Linked DNA regions of Homo sapiens: region 1 is linked to region 2. The links come from fine-mapping of genetic effects on gene expression. Tissue or cell type: whole blood. Region 2 holds a variant in brackets; the other region holds the start of a gene. All regions are shown on one strand. Distances are between the middles of the regions.

What was found. PIP is the estimated chance that this variant, and not a neighbour inherited with it, causes the effect.
Region 1: it holds the start of SLCO5A1-AS1, and the variant in region 2 is fine-mapped to the expression of SLCO5A1-AS1 in whole blood (TOPMed, PIP above 0.99).

Annotation. Positions count from the first base shown.
Region 1 is chr8:69,830,358-69,838,538 of GRCh38, forward strand. SLCO5A1-AS1 (SLCO5A1 antisense RNA 1) reads left to right here and starts at 3,755. Exons shown (of 4, transcript NR_186568.1): 1 at 3,755-3,836. SLCO5A1 (solute carrier organic anion transporter family member 5A1) reads right to left here and starts at 4,621. Exons shown (of 10, transcript NM_030958.3): 1 at 4,497-4,621; 2 at 1,410-2,812. The coding sequence starts at 2,316. RefSeq lists silencers at 2,597-2,686, 4,777-4,886 and enhancers at 2,877-2,946, 4,377-4,456.
Region 2 is chr8:69,744,287-69,752,467 of GRCh38, forward strand. All of the region lies in intron 4 of SLCO5A1 (solute carrier organic anion transporter family member 5A1), which reads right to left. Among named protein-coding and RNA genes, the nearest start is that of SLCO5A1-AS1, 86 kb to the right of the region's middle. The variant G/A (reference allele first, on the strand shown) is at 4,601.

The DNA of each region.
Region 1 (8,181 bases), 86 kb after region 2:
ATCATTTTAATTTTTTTAAGAGATGGGGTCTCACTATGTTTCCCAGGCTGGTCTCAAGTCCCTGGGTTCAAGCAATCCTCCTGCCTCAGCCTCCCGAGTAGCTGGGACTACAGGCACACACCACCACACCCAGCTTCCATTTCAGTTTTTTCAGTAAAGTAAAATCCTTTAGCTTGTTTAGGTTGCACTCCAGTACAGAAATAGAAAAACAAAAATCTCATCTGGTATGACAGCCATTGATCCTTCTTATGGGTTCAAATCCATCCCTTAGAAGTTCAGTTTTTAAGAACCAGCTACTACAGGGAGGTGCTAACAACCTCAAATTTCTAGGATGTAAATTTTCATACCCTCTGCAACTGCTGCCTGGCCTCAGATGAGCCCCCTGTACTTAACTCAAGCACCCCTGTCCACTGATGCTGACTTATGCAAGTCAACACACCAAATCCCACAGCCACGGCTTTTCAGAAAAATAGGAATGGATTCTTCTCCCAAGTTCATACAATTGAGGGTTTTTGACAGCAATAAAAATAGCTTTGGATAAACCTTATAACCTGTGGTGTTGCTTCTTCATAAAGGTAAGCCAGTCATTTGACATTATTCAAATTTTTGTTGTTGTTTTTAGATAGTGGTGCAGGTGACGTATAAGAAAAACAGGTATGAATCCCAGCACTTTGGGAGACCAAGGAGGGTGGATCACCTGAGGTCAAGAGTTCAAGACCAGCCTGACAAACATGGTGAAACCCCATCTCTACAAAAATTAGCCAGGCATGATGGGTACCTGTGATCCCAGCTACTCGGGGGCTGAGGCAGAAGAATCACTTGAACCCAGGAGGCGGAGGTTGCAGTGAGCTGAGATCATGCCATTGCACTCCAGCCTGGGTGACAGAGCAAGACTCCATCTTAAAAAGAAAAAAAAAAAAAAGAAAAGAAACACAGGTATGAAGGCAATAAAGCATGATGTATGTAGTCTGGCCACGCCACCATCCCTGCTGCTCTGGACAGAAATCAGAAGCAGCAGCAGATAGAAGCAGAAAATCATCAAAACTTTACACATGAGGTACTGCTATTCCTTCCTCAACAAGTGTATTAGAATATAAACTTGACAAATTGGAGCTTTTCCATAGGTAGGTAGCAACAGAGAGAAGCATCACCCCACAGTTTAAAGTTTATGTTACTTGGGAAAAGACAAACATGAAGTATGAGTCTGAAAATTAGTTTCAAGAACTCTCAACTAATTGATTCTCTCCCAAACTGAAAACACACTACAGCAAGGCTAAAACGTAAAATAAAGTGAACTTTAATCTATAATATACATGAAAATGTGAAAGAACATGTTTCCTTTTGATTTTTGTAAGGAAAGTAAGTTTCAGTGTGAGTGAAACATATCTGAGAGAACAGGAAAGTCTTACCTAGGTACAAGGAGGAGTTTTCTTTCTTGACATTGTCATCTAAGTAGGTTGGTCCCAGGGTATAAATAGGTGTGGAGCCCATTCCAATGAGAATCTGCGCGCAAATGAATAAAGCCACGTAGACCCAGTGATTATTTCCTCCCGAGTCCTTCGGACAGGCCGGAGGCTCCAAAGTGGCGGTGGAGTTGCCACCCTGACACAGGCCGTCGTTGGGGGCCGAGGCGTTCAACTCTTGGATCTGGTAGGGGGGCGAGATGAAGTGAGGTAAGGCGAAGAGGGCTGCCCCGAAGGCGATGAGGAGTCCACCCACGGCCAGCCACAGGGGCCGCCGACCCCGGCCGCCGAAGTAGCTGACGAACACCACCACCACCAGGTTCCCGATGTCAAAGCAGCTGACCAGCAGCCCCGACTCGGAACTCTTCAGACTGTAGCGCCTTTCAATGGTGGTAATTACGCTGCTCAGGTACCCAGAGACCATTAACGCCTGGATGAAGGTCAGAAAGCACATGCACACCAGGAAGCAACGGGAATCCGTGAGGACCACGTAGAGGCACCTTCTCTCCTGGAGCATGGCCAAGGCGGAGGACACCGAGAAGGTTTTGCTGAGGTCCACCCTGTGGTTACAGTCCCCGAGCCCCGCCGAAGTGGACGGGGCAGAGGGACTGGGGGCCAACGGGTTCGGGCCTTGCTTCAACTCCTGGTGGCCCGAAGAATCCACACAGCCAAAGGCCGGGTTGGCGTCTCCACTAGTGGGACTGAGGCTTGGCCGGCAGGAGGCGCTGCTGAGGACCGGTAAACTCTTAGACCTGAGGGTCTCCGGCTCGCACCTCTCTTGGACAGCTTCTGCAGTGGCCGGCGCCTCCAGCTGCTCTCCCGCCCCGGGCTGCAGTCCAGTGCCTTCGTCCATGGCGCTTAGAATTCAGATTTGATAGCTGATGGCACCCAAGCACTCCGGCACGTTTCATCCACCGGCACGAGGGGCCGAAGCCGGGCCCAGTCAGTCTTGCCCACCTGGGACTGGGGCTGGGGGCGCAGGGCCGCGCAGCAGGGCATCCTCACCAGCTGCGAGGCGCCCAGTGCATCCTGATCACAGACACGGCTTCAAGGCTCCGCAGCCGCGTGCCACAGGGGGCAGGGGTCCGCGCGGTACTGCGATGAGCCCTACTCGGCGTCCCTCTCCGGGCGGTAGCTTGAGGCAGGCGCCTCGCGCGTCCCGGGCTCATCCCCTCCGCCGCCGCCGCCGCCGCCGCCGCTGGGCCCGCGGCCAGGAGCGAGTGCACCCTGCGCCGGGGGTGGGGGGGCACTTAGCGCTGCTGTCCGTACAGCATCCCACCTCGCTGCGCCAGGGGTACCGGGTGTTCGCCGCCTGGGCTCGCGGCACCCTCGGGAGTGAAGCTGCCGACCTGCAAAGCAGAAAGAGGGCGGTCAGCGAAGAGCGGCTGCGGCTTGGGGCTAGCGTCCCAGCGCCCCGGGGACCAGGGTTAGGTGACCCCGAACCGTCCCTAGAGGGACGGAGGAGCTAGTCAGGAGCGGAGCCCCGGAGGACTAGGCAGCAGCCGGCTGCAGTCTCCAGTCCCGGAACAATAAGCAGCAGGCGGTCGGCGGAGACTCTCCCTCATTGTCTGCCGCGGACCTGCCCCCGTCCCGCCCCTTCTGCCTTAAACATTGCGTTTGCTTTTATATGTTAATAATTATCAACCTGGCAGCTCTGACTCAGAGGCAGTGTCTTTTAATCGAGTGAACTAACTGCAGCCTTTCCGTACTCCTACTCCATTACTCAAAATAGAAAATGCCCAAAAGAACAAAGGAAACTTTTTCACAGACACACAATGTATTCCCTGTCCCAATTTTTCTAAAAGGAAAAAAGAAGGTGGGGGTAAACTACGTGTGTAGAAATGTGTGTGCACACTGGTGTGCGTTGGCACGTGTGCGCGACTAGATTTGAATCTGTCTGCTCCACCAGAGACACACATTCAAAGCCGAAGGCAGCAGCAAAAAGGTCAACATGCTTGCCTCTTTATTCCCAACACCAAAAATAACCCCCTGACCGAAAGAACTCTTCAATTACAAATACCAGGGGCATTCGAGGCTGTGGCCCGCACTAAGTCCCAGAGCGCGGTATCAAACGAAACCGAAAATCCGTCTGCTTTGCCGAGAGCTAGGGAAGCCACAACCAAACAAAGAGATCCCGGCACGCTGTCAGAGAGCGCGCGAGGAGCCCACGGAGCCGGCTGGGCGCACGCGGGCCGGCGGGGAGGTGTGCTATTGACTGAGCGCACCCCGCTAGCGTGGGCCTGGGGAGCGTGTGCGCGTGCGCGGCCACACACACACACACACACACACACACACACACACACACACACCGGCGTACTGGAACCTCTCTCGCGATCCCGCACCCAGCTTGAATTCAGCAAGAATCGAAAACAGGTGTGCCCCCGTGGTAAGACCCCGCCCCTAATCTTGGGGACCCCCACTCCACTCCTCCAGCCTGGGGCAAGGACGGGGGGCGGAATATGCACCAGGTGGGAGACAGCCGAGCTTCACTACACTGGGTTTCATTTTGCAGCGCGCCTTTGTGATGCTGCTGAGAAAAGAAAGGAGGAAGGGCAAGGGAGAAAGGCAGAGAGGCTGGGCGGCCAAGGGTGGCCGCTCCGGCATCTCCCTCGGCTGTGCTGGGCCAAACCCGCTCCCAGATTCCCGGCCTGCCAGCCACTCACAATCCCGGGCTTCCCCGCCGCTGCCTTACCCAGGCGCCTTCCCGGGGAACCCCACCAGCCGCTGCGTGAGGAGCCGGGGAATCCCAGCAAACTCTCGCCGCTCGCGGGGGGCGTCCGAACCCCCTGCTTAGGCGAGCGCCCTCACAGCATCGCAGACTCGGATGGACACGCGGATCCCGGCAGGGAGCTCTTGGAGCAGGCGTGGAATCCCAGGGACACCCCCTGCGCGCACATCACATACACGCACATCCTACACACACACACACACACACACACACACACACACACACACACACAGAGCCCGTGGGAAGACAAGACCGCCGGCGACAGCCCGCCGCGCTGCCCGGGCGCTCAAGCCGCCGCTACTCACTAGCGAGTCTGTCAGTCTGTCTGCCTGGCTGAGTAGAGCGGCGGGAGGGGGGCACTGAGCTACGGGAATAGTTGGGAGCCGCGTGAGGAGGCAGCCTCCGTCCAGCCGAAGAGAAATCAGTGAATGAGACTGTGACTCAGGCTGAACTCTTCCCCCCACCCCTCGCCTGTCACCCAAGCCTCTCCTCCGCTCCAAACAGACACACGCGCACAGAGACGCGCCCGGAGAGGAGCAGCCGAGGGCGCAGGCGCGAGGGCAGCCACCCAGCCCAGCCCTCCCACAGCCAGCCACCCCGCTGCCCTTCACCTGCGTGGCTGCGGGGGCCCAAGAGCGCTGAAGCCCCGAGGGAGCCGGTCTCTAGAAAAGTCAGCGGCTGAAGCTGACAGCCCACTCTGAATAAATAAATCATTTCTGATCGTTTATTCCGTGCCTTGGGCACACACCATGTCTCATTCACCATAGTAGATTCTGGGACCAAAGATAAACAAGACAAGATACTTGGTCGGAGGAAACCTCTGGCTTGTGGGGGAAATACTCATGTAAATGGCTTAAAACAACGTGGTACATCTATGCAGCCTGCTACTGGAGTAGCCAATATCCATTAGCCTTCATTTCCACGCAGCAGGAAGAACAGAGGCACGGGGGCATGGTGCTGCCAGTCAATAGGTAGATAAGCTTCCTAGAAGATTGCAGGGATGGGGCAGAGGACCAGACTGCAAGAGTGGCTGAGTAGAAAGGGGCACTACGGGTTTCCTAAGTTGTGTACTGTCAATAATGTGGGGGCAATGACGTTCTGACTTCCTCACCAGAGAGCTGGCTCTGGCAGTGACAGGTAGACAGATGTGAGGCCACACTGCGGGCACAGAAGTGAGTTGGGAGGCAGTCTGAAAGCAAAATGTGATGAGGCATTGGCAGGGGGCATGGAGAGGAGGGAACTGGGCAGCTGATGCAATCTGCAAGAGAAGAAAACCAGCCGAGGTAGGATGACTCCCAAGTTTCTAGCACCAAGTTGGGTGACTACGTGCCTGACAGCCAATAAAAGCACAGGTGGAGAAACATGCTTTAGGAGAAAGATTGTTCTCATCTACATGTGTTGAGTTTGAAATGTTTGGGGGACATCCCAGTGTACGTGTCCCATAAGCCACTGGACACACAGGAGGTTTGGACTAGGAATATTGATCAGTAGTCATCAGCCCAAAGGTGGCATGAGAAAGGATGGAATGAATAGGGAAGATCATCCAAATTGTGAAGAATCTAGGAGGACAGCGTACAGCCAAAGGAAGGAGACTGGAAGCAAGGGTCAGAGAGGTGTGGGACGCATCAGAAAAGCCAAAAGAGCAGACGACTGTAAGAAGGGAAGGGTCAGATGTGTACAGGCTGCAGGGAAGACAAACAGGATGATAACTGAAAAAAAAAAAAAAAAAGAGTATCTGAGGGCACTTGTGACCATTGACAGAGCAGGATAGTGCTCTAATGGAGGAAAGGAGGTTGCTCACAAGTACCAGTGACCATGCTGGCCATTGCTGCCAGGTCGAAGCCCCTCCACTGGCCCTTGGCCTTGCCCAATGAAAGCATTGTCTCCATTTTACAGATGTGATAAGTGTAGAGAGGTTAAGTAACTTTATATAGGCACACAGCTGCTCTGTAGACAATATGAACCAATGTGCTCCAAAAGACTATGTTCTTACTTAACCTCTTAACCCTGACTCTCTACCCTCTCTCCTGCCATTGAATAACATCCTGACTCGTCAATGCACCTTGATTCTTTTGATTATCTCCCTTTAGTCCAACAACCGTCGTATCTACAGCGATCCTTAGAGAACAATTAAGGCCAGTTGACAGTAAAGAACAATCAGTGTGTATTTGAAGTCCATGCTGAGAGAGCATCAATCTTCTGGCAGCTGCAAGACTGACCTATCAACCGAGGCATTTCTTCATTCCCTGCCATTGTCTCCTCCTCTTGAGATCGCCATCAGGCACAGTCACTTTTCTACAAACAGGCAATAGGACTCCCGCTGCCACCCTGCCCAGATTTTAGTCCTCTACTGCTGATAAAGTGAGCAAAGATACGTGGCACTTCCTGAACCCAAATACTCTTCTGAGCTGATTCTAAATCCACACAGAATCAACCTACCTCCTATTACCTCCTTCCAAGCTCTGTGTCCCATTCTCTCATTTCAGTCTCAGCTCCAGACATCAGTGAATTCAATGTGATACATCAGGGGACATCACAGGACTTCCCTACTTGAAAATCAAGCAATCGTGTCCCTGAAACACTCTGTCTTTATTCATGCTCAGTTACCGTAAAGTAGATGCAACTCTAAGAACCTATGGATTTTTTTATTGCCACTAATAGATCATGATTTACAGCAAAATTTTAAAAGGTCCAATTTTACTCACATAAGAAGAAGAAAACATTCAGCAAGAAGCATTTCTTTTGCTTTATCTTTCCCAGTTAAATATGACTTTAAAAAAGACAAAATTTTAAAAGGTCCAATTTTACTCACAAAAGAAGAAGAAAACATTCAGCAAGAAGCATTTCTTTTGCTTTATCTTTCCCAGTTAAATATGACTTTAAAAAAGACAAAATTTTAAAAGGTCCAATTTTACTCACATAGGAAACAAGAAGAAAACATTCAGCAAGAAGCATTTCTTTTGCTTTATCTTTCCCAGTTAAATATGACTTTGAAAAAGAAGAGCACACCTCATTAGCCGTAATTGTCTGATTAATACAAAGAAATGGACTCATATCACGGGGTTCTACTACCCCTATGGTAGTGTTTACTATCCTTATTTCACTCAATAATTACAGTTACTTTAACCAGAATGCCTGCCTTGTTTGGCATTTTGGGAGAGGAAGCATATGACTGTAAACCCTCTTCAAACTTTCAGACTTACGTTTGCTTCTTCTAAGTCCATCGACTTTATACATAAATGACTTCTTTTTAAAAATAAATAAATAAATAAATAAATAAATGATTTCTTTCCTGATCTTCATATAACAAGTATGTAGCCTTTGCAATTTCCAGGGCAGTCTACAGGTTTAAAATCTGGCCGTCCTGGAGAATGGGCAGAAGAAAGCTGAAGGGAGCCTTTTCCCACAGCCCTTCCCTTCCTTCTTAAAGAAGGTTCACTTCAGAGGTCTCCCAGATACAACAAGAACTGAGTTTTTGGTTCAGAATATTTTGTGGGTGCAAAACATAATACATAGTTGCCAGTAACATAATTGAATTAGGTGTTGGTTGTTTAAGAGGAGACACATTGTATCTTTAAGGTAGCCCCTTAATAGAACTTGGCATGTATATCCTTCCTTAGAAGTGAATTTCAGGTTGGGTAAAACCTGAGAAGGAACAGATCTGGCCCTGGGGTACAATGAATGCAGGCAATCACTCCAGCCCTGGTGGCTTGAGGGCCCTGCAAGTGCTAAAGGAGTATAGTGACCAACTGTGTCCAAAGAGACTTAGCACTGCAAGTCCCACACCCCCAAGAAACCACAGTTCCATGAACACCTGGAGGCTTGGCTCCCTATAAAGAAACTGCCACCTCCCTTAATATAATTAAGCCAGATTAGCTGGGTACTGTGGCTCACACCTGTAACCCCAGCACTTTAAGAGGCTGAGATGGGAGGATCCCTTGAGAACACATTTCCACTAAAAAAAAATTTTTTTTAAATAGCCAGGCATGG
Region 2 (8,181 bases):
GAGAGCGGGCTGCTGCCTGCCCTTCCACTCTGTAGTCCTACGGTTGCCCTGCCCCAAGCTTCATCCATGGCATGGTCTTCTTCATCTCTGTACTATTTGTGGTATTCCCCACCTATCTCCTTGGCAAATGTCAAACTCATCCATCAACTTTCAGGATTGGCATCTGCCCCTGTAGGAAGCATCCACAGCTTCTCTAGACAGTCTAGGGGGCTCCCTCTCTGTGCTCCCATGTACTTGGTCCATAGCTCTAGTCATCAATTCTTAGGTAGCTGCATGTGTTTACCTGTCTGTTCCTTTCAGGAGACTATAAAAGCTATGACTGCAGGACCTTGGGGTATCTGTACATCTTCAGCTCCCAGCATTCATCTGGCCTATAGGAGGCACTCAAAAAATATACTTGGAATGCATTTATTAACATTCTTTATTATATCACTGCAATAATTTGTACTAAAGCAATAGCCATATACTTGTGAAAAAATGGAGTCCATTCCAAAGAGACATAATTTCCTCCTGGGGAGCAGGTTAAGAGCTAAGAAAGCATAAGTCATAAGATGAAAGGTGGTCCACAGTGGTGAACTCACTGAAAATAGAAAATTATGCTCCTTTTAAAAGTATGGTTCTTTAATGCTAAAGAATCCTTAATGGCATCAGATAAGATTATAAACTAAAATGTCCATTAAAGAAGAATTAAAATACTAACAGGAGAAACAGAAAATATACAATATTGTCCTTTATCCAGCATATCTGGGAAAGAGATATGCTTAATTTTTCAGATTTCTGAGTGATTGCCTCTTTAAGCAACAAAGCTTTAAATATTTTTGTTGTATTAACTGGTAATACTAGTGAATGCATAGCATAATCTGACATTTTCTTCAAGATTCAAAATCATAATTAGGAATACTAATTTCTGTGTGCTAATTAGTTTTTCACCATCTTTTTTAACCTTCATTAATTTTCTGATTAGTTTTTTTTTCTGGTTGCAAGAAAATTCCTTCCCCAGGATGTGTTGTTTGTGTGTTTGTTTTTACCCACCGACATTGTGCATCCACACCAACATTTCTTTTATGTTCTTCTAAAGAGCCCTTCTAAAAGTAAACATAAGCTATTAATTTTGTTCCTTTTACATCTTTTTTTAAAATTTAAACTGGGGGTGGGATGAGGACTACTGCTTGTTTTATTATTATACAAAATAGATAAGTTAGTATTACTATGAAGCAGTTGACTAAATTTTATTACCCCAAAATGTACATTTCTACCCAGGTATAAATTATGAGTATTAAATACCAAACAAACATACTGGCCCCTCTTAATGCTTTTCATAATTTTTGACATGGATATATCCACACATACTAACATTTATCTAAAATTTAGTAGCCCAGGCAGTTTATTTTCCTAATGTTTAAATTCCACTAAAATACATACCCTTTTAAAAAAATAATTTATTGTGCCAAAATTCACAGAATATAAAATTAACTATTTTAAAGTAAAAATGTTAGTGGAATTTAGTACAGTCACGATGTTGTGCAACCACCACATCTATCTAGTTTCAAAATATAAATACTTTCTTACTATTAAAAAAAGTTAAGCATTTTATTTTCAGAAATGGGATTGGAATTCACTTTTATTTTATTCTCTAAATTTTCTGTCATGAACATGTATTACTTTTAGGATCTTGTTTTAAAAGCTGCAATTTTAAAAGGATGCAGAAATGTGTCAACCCTGAACGTCCTCCCTGACTCAGGCAGCCAACATGGATTCCTTCCTCCTCTTCCTTCCACCTTCTTAGAATGTGCATATCTCCATTTTAGGACTTAACATATTAATATTGTGTCTACTTTCTTTTCTGCCTCCCTTTGAGGGCAAGGTCTGTAACTTTTCATGTATGCATCCTGAGTTCTTAGTCCTGTAGTGATTGTCCAATAAAGATATTTGTGAAAAAGAAAGAAAAATAAAAAAAGAAATTTCCTTAGGATAGATATTGCCAGGCATTTATCTCAATACTTAAATTATTGGGCTCCATTTGGAAACCCATCTAGTCCTTTCCTAAAAGTCTTAAATAACACCCATTTCTTATATAAAAGTACATTTTGAGAGAAGAGTGATCGAACAAGCAGACAAAGGCAGCTTAAAGGGACTAAAGTCAAACAAGGCATAAAATTCACATTGGGCACAGAGACCAAGAGTGAAGATGAAAGCAACCAGAGTAGAAGGTCATAGTTATATAAAAGATGGGGATTTTTATTGATAAATTTTAAAATAATGTGATACTGCCAAAATACAGGGTGCTTTGCAAAGCACATGGGCAGTACCAAGGCCTTTGCCTTGAGGGCATAGGAAAGGCCTCCTCAAGGGGGAGGATGAAAAGTGGTGTAATAAAGAAAGGCAGAGGGAACACCACGTGATAATTATGGCCGAAGGAGGCCAGTGAGCAGATACTCCAGCTAGAACACATAAGCTTCCATATTAATCATGTTTATAAATTTCTATATTTTATAATGCTTTGACTTCTTAAAAAGCTTGCCAGCCAGCGAGAGACTGCCCTCCCAGGACTATAGCCACTTCTTAGAGATAGCATTGGGCTCAGCTGCCACTGCGAGCATACCTTTCATAAGCAAACCAACCAATCCCAAGTTGGTAGCCCCAACCACCTCCTTATCTAACTCACACACACTTCACCTGTCCTAAATCACCCAGGGTCAGGTACCAGACAACTGGAGATCATCCTTATAGCCCACAGCCTGTGGACATTATTCAAACTAGCCAATCCTAAGCTCTTTCCCAAGGATATCCCAACAAAGGCTGTGGCCTAGACTCTGGCCTTGCTCCGATTCTGCCTCCTGACCAACCTGATGCTCCCCCTGTGGCCCTGCATGGCAAGGCATGCCCCCTTCTCTTAGGAAGTGTAAGTAATTTATTCTACCAGCGGTATTAACCTCGTCATATCATCACTCAGACATCTCTATAAGTTAAAATCCCATGGGTGCAAATTATTGAACAGCCTTTAACATCTCATGAAACTTCTTGATCCTCTTCTTTTATGAGTACTTAAAGTGCAGTTGGTCCTCTATATCCATGGATTCTGCATCCATGGATTCTGCATCCATGGATTCAACCAACCACAGATTGAAAATACTCAGAAAAAAAAAATGAATGGGTGCATCTGTATTGAACACATCAGACTTTTTTATTATCCTTATTCCCTAATCAAGACCATATAACAACTATTTACATAGCATTAACATTGTATTAGGTATTATAAGTAACAAGAGATGATTTAAAGTATACCAGAGGATGTGCGTAGCTTATATGCAAATACTGCACCATTTTTATATCAGAGACTTGAGCATCGTGGATTTTGGTATCCACCAAGGAGTTCTGGAACCCATCCCCCGTGGATACCAAGGGATGACTGTATTTAAATGTTCCATTATCTCTAATCTTGCAGTTCCTGTCATTTTTATTCTTTAAAGCCTTCTGGTGCGTCAAAAAGCTGGTGAAAAAATATGATCGTCCTGCAGTGAAAACCTTAGTAACTTCTATGGCCTGTGAATCTTGCATGATCCTGTATGTTCTTGAGCATTTGGCAGATACAACTTTTCCATGCTGTTATCCAGAAGAATCAAACTATTTTTAGTCAGGGTTTTCTGTAAAAGCAAAACCAAGACTGCTTATCATATGCAACATGGCCAACACAGGACCTATGTGCCCTCATTTCCTGCTCATTTTCTTTGAAAGAAATGATCCCACGGGTTTCCCAATCATAAGGCCCCATGAAGGTACTCTAAGTCCTCCCTCCCCTCCAAAACACACCAGCAAATGGCATTTGCTGCTTGCCTGGAAAAGACAGGAGCTAGATGACACTAGCACGCCACAGTCACCTGGCAGCTTAGCACATTGAGCCTGAGACACTTGCCTACGACAAGGGGGTACACATGGCTGCCAGGGCCTAAAATACATCATTAGTGGCTCCTGGCCACAGTACTACCTTGCTTGTTTAAATCAGCACTCATGAGTATGTTCACATATCTTTCTAAGGAGATGCTACTTTGATGAGTCACCCCACAGTTATTTTGCTGAGTATAGAGAAAGAGCTTTCTTTTTCAGGGTTTCTCTGCCTGGACTGTTACCATTTACCTTTCACCTCCTAAGCTGCAAGTCCAAATCTAAAGATGTGGCTTACTACCAGAAATCATACATACAATAAAATAATAGACAGGAAAGAAACAAATAATTCGATACACAGAAAACATAAATAGAGCAGAGCATCCAAACCGGGAGAAAGAATTAAATGTGGCCATAAGACTTTTCCTGGGTTTTAGATTTGACTCTGACTTTCCTGGCCATCAAAGCAAAAAGCTATATAATCATCATTATCAGAAACACAGAAACATTCTACTTTCTTCCTGGAAAACAAAGTTTTTCCTAACTATGTTCTGGAGCTGTGGTTTTCACAGTGCAGTTCCTGGACCAACAGCTTCAGTATCATCTGGGAAATTGTTAAAAAATGCTCATTCTCAGGCCGCACTCCAGACCTACTGAATCGGAGACTGTGGACTGGGGCCTAAAGACCTGGGTTTTAGGGAGCCTTTGTGGTGATGCT[G/A]TTGTAGGCTGGGTTTGAGAACCAATGATCCAAAGAAAGGGGTTTTATATAAAGGGCACTGAGCAACCATCCTATGGCAAGTATGGGGAATTCAAGCAGCAGCTTTCAATAAAACTGCAAACACAAAATTAAAGTGCTATTTAGCAAAGGCAGTATGCAAGAAGACTAAGAGCACAGGGCCCAGGCATGTAGCTTTTAGTGATCCCTCTTTGCTGCGTCAAAAACTGACCTGGACACATTCATACTATACTTGTTCCAAAACACCTAGCAAAGGAGCATATGCAATGGTTCTGGGTGTTCTTAGGCAGCTCAAGTTCAGAATCTATTCCTTCTGCTTCTCTCAACTAGTTCCTCTCCCCATTATCTGAGGTTCAAACCCTATAATCACCTCTGGTATCTCTCTCCATCATTCCCATATCAGTTGTCACACCCTAAAGAAATGACCTGTTTCACCGGGCGCAGTGGCTCACACCTGTAATCCCAACATTTTGGGAGGCCGAGGCAATGGATCATCTGAGGTCAGGAGTTCAAGACCAGCCTGGCCAACATGGTGAAACCCCATCTTTACTAAAAATACAAAAATTAGCCAGGTGTGGGGGTGGGTGCCTGTAATCCCAACTACTCAGGAGGCTGAGGCAGGAGAATCACTTGAGCCTTGGAGGCGGAGGTTGCAGTGAGCAGAGATCACGCCACTGCACTCCAGAGCAAGACAGAGTGAGACAAAGCAAGACAGTCTCAAAAAAAAAAGAAAAAGAAAAAGAAATGACCTCTTTTTCTCATTCAATAATTCATTCATCAAATATTTACTATGTACCTACTAGGTGGTGTAAACTTAGCAGGAAATGTAATGGACAAAAAAAAAAAAACATTCCTGTCTTCATGGAGCTTACTTTCTCATTGGGGAGACAATAAATAAGTAAGTAAAATCCATGGTAGGTGAGTGAGTGATGGGTGCTAAGGAGAACACTAAAGGCAGGATGGAGGTAAGAAGCCTTGAAGGAGAGGTCAGAGATTTTTAACAGGGTGGCTAAGGAAGGGCTCACTGATAAGGGGCCACGTGAGAAGTGCACTGAGGGAAGTGAGAGAACATTCCCAGCACAAGCGTGGCAAGTGTAAAAGTCCTGGGGTGAGACTCTCTGGCACGTTTGAGGACCAACAATGAGCCCAGTGGGGCTGAAGCAGAACACACAATAAACAAGTGGGACTGAAAGGAGATAAAGTCGAAGAGGTAACCAGGGGTTAAATCATAGGTCATAAAGGAGTGGACTTTTCTATGAATGAGCTGGGAGACCACAGAGCTTTGAGCAAAGGATTGGCATTTTAACATTTCTGGCTGCTGAAGGGAAGGCAGGTAGAAAGGGGGCAAGGGTCGATGCAGCAGGGCCAGTTTAGCAGGCTGCTGTCCTTTCCTTCTCTACTAGTCGAAACCTCTCCACTGGGCTCTGTCTGCAGCTGTCTACCTGTGCCCCTTCCTGACAATCTGCTCCTCCTCCTCCCTAATCTACCTCTTTGAGTGCTACCAAACACCGACTCAAACCTCCCCATTCCCCGTTAGAAAAGAAATCGAAGAACTCACACTAGAACTCACGCTCTCCACCATGTGCCCTGCTTGACCTTCCCAACCTCATCTCCCAGGCCTCTGCCACATATGTCCAACAGACCAACCACAAAACGCTTGTTCAGCACATTCAAATACATCTACACAGTCCCAGTTTTCTGGCCTTTGCTCTCTCTGCCTGAACATTCCTGACACCCGCCTCCACCTACTGAAATCCTCCCAGTCTTTCAAGGTTCATCTCAAATGCCACCTCCTCCATATAACTTTTCCTGATCCCTCAACTGGATGCTCCTTCTGCAGCCTTGAACCTCCACAGCTTTGCACCTGTTCTCTTCTTATGGCCTTTAATACATTTCCATCTGTATTTGTCCTGGCTCCCTCAGTGGACTCTAAGCTCTTGGAGGGTAAACCATGGCTCACTCAACTGTATAACTAAAGCATGGAGTACAGCACCCTCTATAGAGTGAACATTCAGTGAATTCAATGATGCCAACATTATCCTTCCATGAGCAAAATTCTCCAACTTTCAGTAGCCTCTTTAAATCAGTTTATCACCTCAGGGTAACTATTTTATTTAGTTAGGATTTTAAATATATTGCACTCTAACAGACAAAATCCTAGCAGAGAAATCTCTGTTACATTTTATGCTTAATAAATAATACTAAGCAATTAAGCTTCAAAGATTAAAAAGTGGACATAGAAAGTAAAATCATTCTTATGATTAACTGCCACCAAAAGTTTTTTAGATAGAAGGCTGCCCAGTTAAATTTGGAATGCTTTAAAATGCTGGACCTCAAACCTCAGGAAAATGGATTCACTTAAATATTTTAAGTGTTTATTTTTATTGGTAAGATTTTTGATGGAATCAATGCTAATTTCTTTGTGGAATGTAATGCAGATATACTGAGAATTCTACTTTCCCCTTTGCGGTGTCTTAAATCAGTGTTATTCCTGCATAATTTATAATAAGAGTATGAAAACACTGAGTCAGATTTTCTCAATGTCTGTCATTAAAATGTGGAGGTGGAGTATATTTTCTTCTATCATTCTCTACAATAGAACTTCCCAAAAGGGCGCCATTCTGTATGGCTCAAATAATTTTCTTTTTTTTTTTTTTCGTGAGACGCAGTCTTGCCTCTGTCACTCAGGCTTGAGTGCAGTGGCACAATCTTGGCTCACTGCAACCTCCACCTCCCGGTTCAAGCGATTCTCCTGTCTCAGCCTCCAAAGTAGCTGGGATTACAGGTGCTCACCACAACGCCCATCTAATTTTTTTATTTTAAGTAGAGACTCGGTTTTGCCATGTTGGCCAGGTTGGTCTCGAACTCCTGACCTCAGGTAATCCGCCCACCTTGGCCTCCTAAAGTTCTGGGATTACAGGCATAAGCCACTGCACCTGGCCAATAGTTTTCTGTTTAAGGAAGTATAAGTTACCAACTTCTACCTCCTCTTTGAAGGTACTAATATTGGTATCCAAATTTCAAATATAAAGTAAAGACCAAAAAGCCAAGCGTGGTGGCTCACACCTGTAATCCCAGCACGTTGGGAGGCTGAGGCAGGCAGATCCCTTGGGTCCAGGAGTTCTAGATCAGCCTGTGAAACATGGTAAAACCCCATCTGTACAAAAGATGCAAAAATTACCTAGGTGTGGTGGCACAGGCCTGTAGCCCCAGCTACTGGGGAGCTGAGCCAGGAAGGATCACTTGAGCCTGGGAGGTTGAGGCTGCAGCGAGCCAAGATCACACCACTGCACTCCAGCCTGGGTGACAGAGAGAGACTCTGTCTCAATAAACTAAAATAGAATAAAAATTTTAAAAATTAAGACCAAAAGAAGCCCTACTCCAGAAAATAGAAGGGAAAAAAGGATCTGGGACTCAAACTCAGATTTAACTCAAAATGGACTTTTCTATGAATCATTTTTTAAGGCAAGACCTCAATAATAAATCTCAGCTTTGTTAAAAAGTAACCTCAATAATAAATCTCAGCTTTGTTAAAAAAAAAAAAGTGATGTCAATAGCAGAAT